2 separate regions of the Homo sapiens genome follow, and region 1 is linked to region 2. The links come from fine-mapping of genetic effects on gene expression. A gene starts in region 2. The other region holds a variant in brackets. All regions are shown on one strand. Distances are from middle to middle. Region 1 holds the start of MIR3671 (microRNA 3671). Region 2 holds the start of LINC01359 (long intergenic non-protein coding RNA 1359).

The links. PIP is the estimated chance that this variant, and not a neighbour inherited with it, causes the effect.
Region 1: its variant is fine-mapped to the expression of LINC01359 in whole blood (TOPMed, PIP above 0.99).

Annotation. Positions count from the first base shown.
Region 1 is chr1:65,053,798-65,058,192 of GRCh38, reverse strand. It overlaps MIR3671 (microRNA 3671), which reads left to right and starts at 351; the gene lies at 351-438. It also overlaps a transcript of JAK1 not described here. The variant T/C (reference allele first, on the strand shown) is at 2,250.
Region 2 is chr1:65,000,853-65,005,247 of GRCh38, reverse strand. LINC01359 (long intergenic non-protein coding RNA 1359) reads left to right here and starts at 2,772. Exons shown (of 7, transcript NR_119383.1): 1 at 2,772-2,919. It also overlaps a transcript of JAK1 not described here. RefSeq lists a silencer at 2,407-2,546 and an enhancer at 2,677-2,756.

The DNA.
Region 1 (4,395 bases), 53 kb before region 2:
AGACTGAAAATAGGTAAGTATGAATTAGTATTTCTGGAATGGTATTCAGAGAACTTCGTACCATTTTTATAAATGTGAAAGGTAACCTAATTAGAACAGCTTGGCACTTGTCAGTACACTACTAGATTTCAAAATCAGATTCTACTTACAGGGAGAAAAAAAAAGCCCAATATGTTGAACAGTATTGAAATTGTTGCATAAATAAAAGTCCATCATTGTAGACCAGCTTACTGAAGTGAAGAAAGAAAAAAAGTATATCTTTGTCTTGAAGGAGTAGATAGTGACATGTCATGTTTCTTTCAGGATATTTAGGATCTGGCCTAATTCAAAAGAATATTTACTGAATGCCTATGTTATTGCTGCTGCTGTCACATTTACATGAAAATAAAATGTAAATTATTTTATTTCTATCAAATAAGGACTAGTCTGCAGTGATATCTGGCACATATCGATTTCAGGAATACGAAGCTGTAAACACCAAGCCAGCATCACGTGCATGAAAGACTAGGAAATTTTTTTTTTGTTGCCCACACGGGAGTGCAGTGGCATGATCATAGCTTACTTCAACCTTGATCTCCCAGGCTCAAGCAATCCTCCCACCTCAACCTCCCGAGTCTGAGACTACAGGCTCAGGCCACCCACCTGCAAATTTTTAGTAGAGACAGGAGTTCACTATGTTGCCAAGGCTGGTCTTGACCTCCTGAGCTTAATTGATTCTCCCACCTCAGCCTCCCAAAGTGCTGGGATTACAGGCATGAGCCACTATACCCAGCCAGGATTAGGAAATTTAACAGCACACATCTTCAACCTCCATCTTACTCTAGAGAGTACTGCTGGGGGTGAAAGGTGGTTATTGGAGAACCCAGGATTCTGCCAATGCCAATCTCTGCCAATTATCCCTCTTCCCTGTAGACTCCTAAGGACACTGTACACATGTAACAATAGCAAATAAGAAACAAAGTGCATGACTTGATTATGTGTTAGATCTTAGATCACAGTACTGTGCAAGGAAGGCTCAGGTAATTTCATGGAACGTGTTTTAGGCTCAGAGCCTAATCGGGTATATTACCTCATCCTAGGCTCATGTCTGTATCTGGGAGCCTGTGGATGTCTGACTGGTGTAGGAACCCAAAGCAGTGACCCATATGCTTGAGCAAAGAGAACAGAGATGGCTGAGGTTAGGCTGTAATTTGAACCTACCTACCACAGAGAGAAGAGGGGCCAGGGAGAGAAAAACCATTTGTGACTTTTTTTTTTTTTTTTTTTTTTAAAGAAAGAGTCTCAGTCTGCGGTCAGGCTGGAGTGCAGTAGCTCAGTCTTGGTTCACTGCAACCTCTGCCTCCCGGGGTCAAGTGATCCTTATGCCTCAGCCTGCCGAGTAGCTGGGATTACAGGTGTGCACCACCATGCCCATGTAATTTTGTATTTTTGGTAGAGATGGTGTTTCACCATGTTGCCCAAACTGGTTTCAAACTCCTGTCCTCAAGTGATTCTCCTACCCTCAGCCTCCCAAAGTGCTGAGATTACAGGCATTGAGCCACTGCACCCGGCCTCGTGTGACTTTTTAACATACTGTGAACCTTACCTACTATCAGCCCTGCCAACTGCATGTCTTAGATATGGGTCAGGTGTATTATCAGGTCCTCCACTGGGACACAATGGGGAAGAAAGGGAACTGAAAGGGAGTAGGCCTCGTACAGAGAGGTTCTTTCTTATCCTTCATTGTGCCAGTCCTCAGACATTGATGGTCACTGTGTTCCTTTGCTGGTGATTGCAGTTCCCTTTAGTGTCTCTTCCCTCTGCTCTACCCAAAGAGGAACCATTCTTAGTAGTGATCCCTTGAGCCACACTTGGTTGGCCCAGAACTGTTATTTTTTCAGACACATTGACCACATTATAGCCCAGTACCTTCACATGTCCTCATAGATCCACAATTTCTCTAAGCTATATAAGCTACACTACGTTTTTGATTAATTAGAGAGAGGGGTCTCCCCAGTTATTATGCTACCACTCCTGAAATTCTTTGGAGTTTTCTTAAAAGGAATTTCTGACAGAAACTCTGGAAGAACTTTTAGGAAGGGAAAGTTAGGGATTGGTGAATCCTCAAGTAATTTGAAACACTCCTTATGTTTAGTGTTTGAGCAGGTGGAAAAAAGTGCTTCAAGAAGTTATGTGTTGTGCAATCATTGGCCTTGGTGAAGATTTCACCACCTTCCCTGATCTTCCTGTTTTCCCCGTTACTAGTTTTA[T/C]AAAAATTCATTGGGTTTTATACTTACCCAACCTTGACCTCAAAATCTACAACCAGGCCTGTGGGGTGTTGAAGAACTGAGTGTTGGGTGTCATTTGCAGTCACCCTGCACTACGGACAGAGTCATGCTGGGTCCCCTTTCCTCTAAACAAGAAGGCTGAGGCTTAGTCTGCAGCAGGAGCTCCAGAAGCTTGCCTGGACCTGGAGGTCTTTGGCATCTTCAAGGCATTTCATAGACGTAAGGTGTTCCAGCAGGTTAAGAGAGAAGTGATGCAAGACAGATCCAATGGGGTTTTTCCACTGCCTTGCTTAAAACACAGTGTGTGTTTGGTTGGTATATTCGTTACATTTTTCAGTTTAGGTGAAGTATGTGAGATGGTAAGATTGCAATTAAACCTAGGAATACCGTATAATCCAGCATTTCCACTTCTGGATACATACCCAAAAGATGTGAAAGGCGGCACTCTGACAGATATTGTATACCCATGTTTATAGCAACATGATTCACAATAACTAAAAGGAGCAACCCAAGTGTCCATTGATGGATAAGTAGATAAATGAAATGTAGTGTATACCTACATTGGAATATGATTCAGCCTTAAAAGGAAGGAAATTCTGACATATGCTACAACATGGATGAACCTTGAAGATACCATGCTAAGTGAAATAAGCCAGACATAAAAGGGTGTATACTGTTATGATTCCACTCACATGAGGCTCCTAGAGTCGTTAAATTCATACAGCCAGGAACTGATGGTTGCCAGGAGCTGGGGGAGAGGGGGGAATGGAGAGTTAGTGTTTAATGGAGTTGTATTTGGGGAAGATGAAAAAATTCTGGAGATGGATGATGGCAGTTGCACAACAACATGAATGTGCTTAATGACACAATGTACACCTAAAAATGGAAAATTTTATGTGTATTTTACCACAATAAAAGAGATTCAGGATAATAACCCTCTTGAAGCCAAAAACAGGATTTAGTTGATTTCTCTGCTCTCCCTTAGTTTTCCGTGTGAAGATAACTGCTGTTTCAAGTAAGCAATTAAAATGTAATTGCCATGTCTTTATGCATTTCAAGTTCTCTAATCTGAAGTCCTTTACACATGTTTCCAGGGTTTCCAACATAGCATAGCTTTAGAATTGTGTAAAATGTAAAGAAAACTCAATATAGTAGCAATGAATATTAAAAACAATGAGAAAAAGGCGTGGACAAGAAGTCACCTGATGTGGCATCTCTTGCTGGCTTTATGTCTTTTCTGGTGAGATTGGGCAACTCACTGGTCCTCTTCCTGTTCCAGTTGCCTCAACTGCCCACGTCTTTGGAGTTATGCTACCACTCCTGAAATTCTTTGGAGTTTTTTTAAACAGAAAAGGAATTTCTGACAACCTATGGAAGAACTCATAAGAAGGGAACGGTCTGGGATTGGTGAATCCTCAGGTAATTTAAAATACTCCTAATGTTTAGTGTTTCAAATTACTTGAGGATTCACCAATCCCAGACCTTTCCCTTCTTAGGGAAATCATATATATAAAATCATATATATAAGAGACTAAAGCAGCATTTAAATGTGGCATGTTATTAAAATATAAACATACAATATATGAAATAATAGTATTAAGTATAGTTTTAAAAAGTATCCTGGTTAGTCTTACAAGTCAAGTATTAGCAGCTTCATTAAAGGAGCATTCTACAGCTTGCTGTCTGTCACGAATAGTTTTCCTATTTGTTGTTACATGCTTAAATTTGATAATAAGAATATAATAATTGAGGCTGGAAATAGCAGTAACCTTCCCTAAGGGATCACATGTTTTATTAGCTGTGGGTAAAAAGGATTCATTTGTGGACCGTATCTGTTTCATCACAAAGTCCTCACTTAGGGTCATGCTTTTAAAACTAAAATCAGATTTTAGTTTTAGGAACATTAGACTACCTCCACCAGATCCTGCACAGTATTCTACCTTGATCATACTACACAGAGTTGGAGCAGACAGCTAGCTGTTGTTCTTGCCTGCCACGCTAATTTCAAATATTTTGCTATGCCTAGTACATTTCTAGCTTCTCTGAATAACCACCCAATTTTAAGTGTGCCACAAACTTGCCTTATCCTGTTTTGGGGGGCCCAGGGGAGACAGGGTCTTCCATAGCT
Region 2 (4,395 bases):
CTCAGCCTCCCCAGTAGCTGGGATTACAGGTGCGTGCCACCATGCCCTGCTAATTTTTGTATTTTTAGTAGAGATGGGGCTTCATCATGTTGGCCAGGCTGGTCTTACAGTTTTCGTTTGATAAAATGCTTTTTGTTTGTTTGTTTGTTTCTTGAGTTCAGATTCAGTAGCCTGGTATAATGACAAACTAGAAATCACAGTATGGGAAAAATATAGGAGATGATGCTTTGATTTCAGGAATATTGTGGATTATCAAACTAAAATTAGCAGATTCTATTTAGCCTCTTAGAATTTCAAAAATTTTTAGACATTAGTATACATCCCCACCTTCACGATATCAGAAATAAAGGGTAGTGAAGATAGCAGAGTGAAATATGAGAATTGTCTCCATTTCAGAAGGTATTTGGCTGAAATGAGACATTTCACAATTTGGTCTTCTGGTCTGCTCATCACTGGAAGTCCCAGCTTCTTCCTGGATAAGAAGTTGTACTTGGATTATATTATTATAACCACATTGTAATTATTATTGTGGAAACACCACAGACAACACGTAAAAGAATTTTTAGTCATAATCCCTACTTATAGTCTTGATTCCTTTGATCTTCACATCTACTTGTTTTGCAATTTTGGTTCCTAAATCAGACATTTGGTATAGTTGGTCAGCCTAGAAACGTCAAAGACAAAAGCTGTCTAGCTATTTGCAAGATTGTCATTGAAGTCCCTTGTGTTTGCACAGATTGCATCTGTCTATTCTGAAAGATGAGCAACAAATCCAGTCAAAGCCTGAGTGAAATAACTGACAATCTTAGATCAACCCTGATGGTCACTCACGAGTCCAGCAGTTTCTATGCAGAGCACCAAACACCTTACTTACAAAAGTAAGGTTAGTGGGAGCTTGGTATTTTCCATATCATCTTGGAGAAGCACTGTTTTGCTTATTCTGTTTTTCCTCCTCCTCCTCTTCCTCCTTTTCTTCACATATTTTGTGTGAATAAGAAAGTACTATTGGCTAGGCAGGTTGGCTTATTCCTGTAATCCCAGCACTTTGGGAGGCTGAGGCGGGTGGATCACCTGAGGTCAGGAATTTGAAACCAGCCTGGCCAACATGGTGAAACCCCGTCTCTACTAAAATACAAAAATTAGCCAGGCATGGTGGTGCACACTTGTAATCCCAGCTACTCGGGAGGCTGAGGCAGGAGAGTCAGTTGATCCCAGGAGGCAGAGGTTGCCATGAGCTGAGATCGCGCCGCTGCACTCCAGCCTGGGCGACAGAGCGAGAATACGTCTCAAAAAACAAAACAAAACAAAAAAGTGTTATTTATAGGAATAAGAACTAAAATGCCTTGTTAATATATTGTTTTGGCATTGCCAAATTTAGCCTATTTGAGTGCATGGATTGCATTTGGGGATTGCTGTTTTCTTTTTTGTTTTGTATGTTTGCTTTAGATGCGTAGACAGAGGGAGTGGAGTAAGGCTTTACAGAGATTACTACAGAAGGCATTTTTTTTTTTCATAAAGAGGGGAAAACGCACCCATCTCATAACAAGAATTTGGAGTCAAAACGAGACAGATTCCATTCCTGCCTTCCACATTAATTAGCTAGGTGACTTTGGGCAAATCACTTAACCTCTAGGTTTTCTCATCAGCAGAATGAAAGCGTTGGCCTATAGACACCCATTTAAATCCCTCCTCCAAATACTCATTCGTTCGATATTTTCTCAGTGTCTACTAAGCACAATCATTGTTAATAAACACTATGATTCTTGGAGAGCTCCAAATCGTGTCTCTGCTTTTAAGCATCATTCCCCTTCCTCCTTTAAAACCAGCGCCTGACTTCTCCCCCAAACAAATCGAAACACTTTTACCGTCTGAAAATGTACATGGGAAAAGAAACGCGTTTCATTGCAGTCACCCGGCGCCAACCTAGACCTGGCGGGCCAGCGAGCTCGTGAGATTTTCTTTCTTTCTAAAGGACAATCTCCACATTTTAAAGGGCAACCCAGTTACCCGAAGAAATACAACTTAAAGGGCGCCTGGAGCCAGGCCGGGACACCCACCCACGCTTTTCTAGGCTGAGGAAACCTGGGAAACTTTTGGGCTCCCGCCGAGTCACGCGGCTGTTCCACGGTAAGAATTGTGCAATGGGGCGAGTCAGGCGGGCGTCCTAGTAGGGAAGAAGCGGGGGAGGCTGCTGCGGTGCCAATGCTTTTCTTAAAAAAAAAAAAAAAAAAAAAGCTAGGTTGTCTCACGCCGTGCGAGGCGCGACGGCGCGGCCGGACAGCCCGGTTCCCGCTGGCCCCAAGCCCGGGCCAAGAAAGCATCGCTTCCCCGCCGGGACCTGGAAGGAGCAGCGCGTGCGTGCGTCCCCTCCCGGGGGCAGAGACTGCCCGCCCGCCACAGCGCTTTCCTGGGACTCTGCGAGGGGCCGGGGTGCGAGCGGGAACTGCGGCAGGCGCAGACTGGCCACATCGATCGTGGCGGGGAAGTCCGGGCTCGCGCTTTCGGTAAGAGCGCCCGGGCTTCCAACTGCGCGGTGCCCCCGCCTCCGCCGCCGCCGGCCAGGCTCGCACTTTCGGATGGTGACGCATCCAGCTGGCTCCGCGGAAGCCTGCGCTGAAACCTGGAGCCCTCCGGGGTGGCCTACTCCTCAGCGCTGCGTTACTGAGCGCTCCCTGGGTGCAGGCTTGGTGATCCAAGTTTGGTCACAGTCATCACTTATGTCACTATCCTTGTGATGTACATACTATAATTAGCGTCACTTAGAAGTGAGGAAACAGGCTCCAAAAGCTTGTTACTTGCTTGTAGTCAAACAGAAGGCAGAGCTGCGAATCAAATCCAGGTTTGTCTCGACATGCCACTAGCTCATACTTCCCTTGGATCAGCCACTAAATGGCTTTCACTCCAGTGAGCAGCGACCAGGTAACACATAGGACGGGTGCGTGGCGGTACCGAGCCCACTGCCCAGGGGCAGCGGGGGCGCTTGCTTCTGGCTGGGGCTCACTCATTTGCCCAAATGGGCTGTAAAATATATACATACACACCCATATATGTGCATATATACACATACGTATATACACACAAACATACGTATATACGTGTGTGTGTTTGTGTATACATACATATTGGACAGCATACCGCAGACTCTGAGCCTCAGTTTTCAATCTTGTATTGGGATCAGGGCACCTATTGTAAGGAGTAGTTGGAAGATGAAATAAGATAGTTTTAACATAGATGCCAGCATCTCGGGGACGCCTGATATATGCCATTTTGCTCTTTTTGCAGCACTCCTGGGGACATCAGGGCACTCACGCTCCTTAACACTGGACAGGAGACCTGCGCAGTCATTCTAGGTCAACACCCTCTCTGACAGACTAGGAATTTAATCCACTCAACGGGAAAATCACTTACCTGCATCACCATCTAGTTACTGACAGACACCAAGCTAGGGTTCCTGCTACCCCTCAAACACACATACCACACACTCACACTCAAACACTTGCTGCCCCTCAAACACACATACCACACGCACACACACTTGCTGCCTTTCAGGCACACATACCCCCCCCCCCACACACACACTTTCTACCTCTCAAACACACATACAACACACACATTTGCTGCCTCTCAAACACACATATCACGCACACAAACACACTTGCTACCTCTTAGACATACAACACACACACTACCACACACACACGCACACATGCACCCCCTCTTTTCCTCCTGGAAGATTCAGACCAGCTCTGGGGCCTGAACGTGACTTCCTCCGAGCGTTGGCAGTGGCGTGGGTGGGGACCTCCGGGAAGGCGAGCAGAGGAAATCAGTCACTGCACTCGCCGCCAGCCAGCGCACAGGGAGAGGGGGACCCAGCCCAGAGGTCCCGCCCCCAGCTCCGCAGGAGGCCTCTGCTGGCGGAGGCTGGGCCCCTTTTGGTAACAAGGGGAATCACTGCAGCCCAGTGAAAGATAAACGCGTGGGTCGGGCTGTGGAATGTCCAAAATTATGAAGATTAAGGAAACAGGCTTTAGGATTCACTTGAAAAGTGAAATCGGCGAATGAAAGTTTTCTAACATGATGAGATCTTGGAAATTGTCCACTCCATTTTTGGGAGGGGTTTAATAATCACTGCCCAACTAGAGCAGCTGTTTTTCCCCTTCCAACGCCCCATTTTGTGAATTGATGCTGAAATAACTGGCCAGGTCTTTCCTTTGGGCACCCTGGAATGTTGGGAATATGAATGGCCTCTTAGTAGAGTTGGAGCTCCAAAGGAAAGGACCCTTTAGAAACAAAAACTTCCATGGCGCCACCGCACTCCAGCCTGGGCCACAGAGTGAGACCCCATCTCAAAAACAAAACAAAACAAAAATCCAACCGCCCCCCCACCAAAAAAAA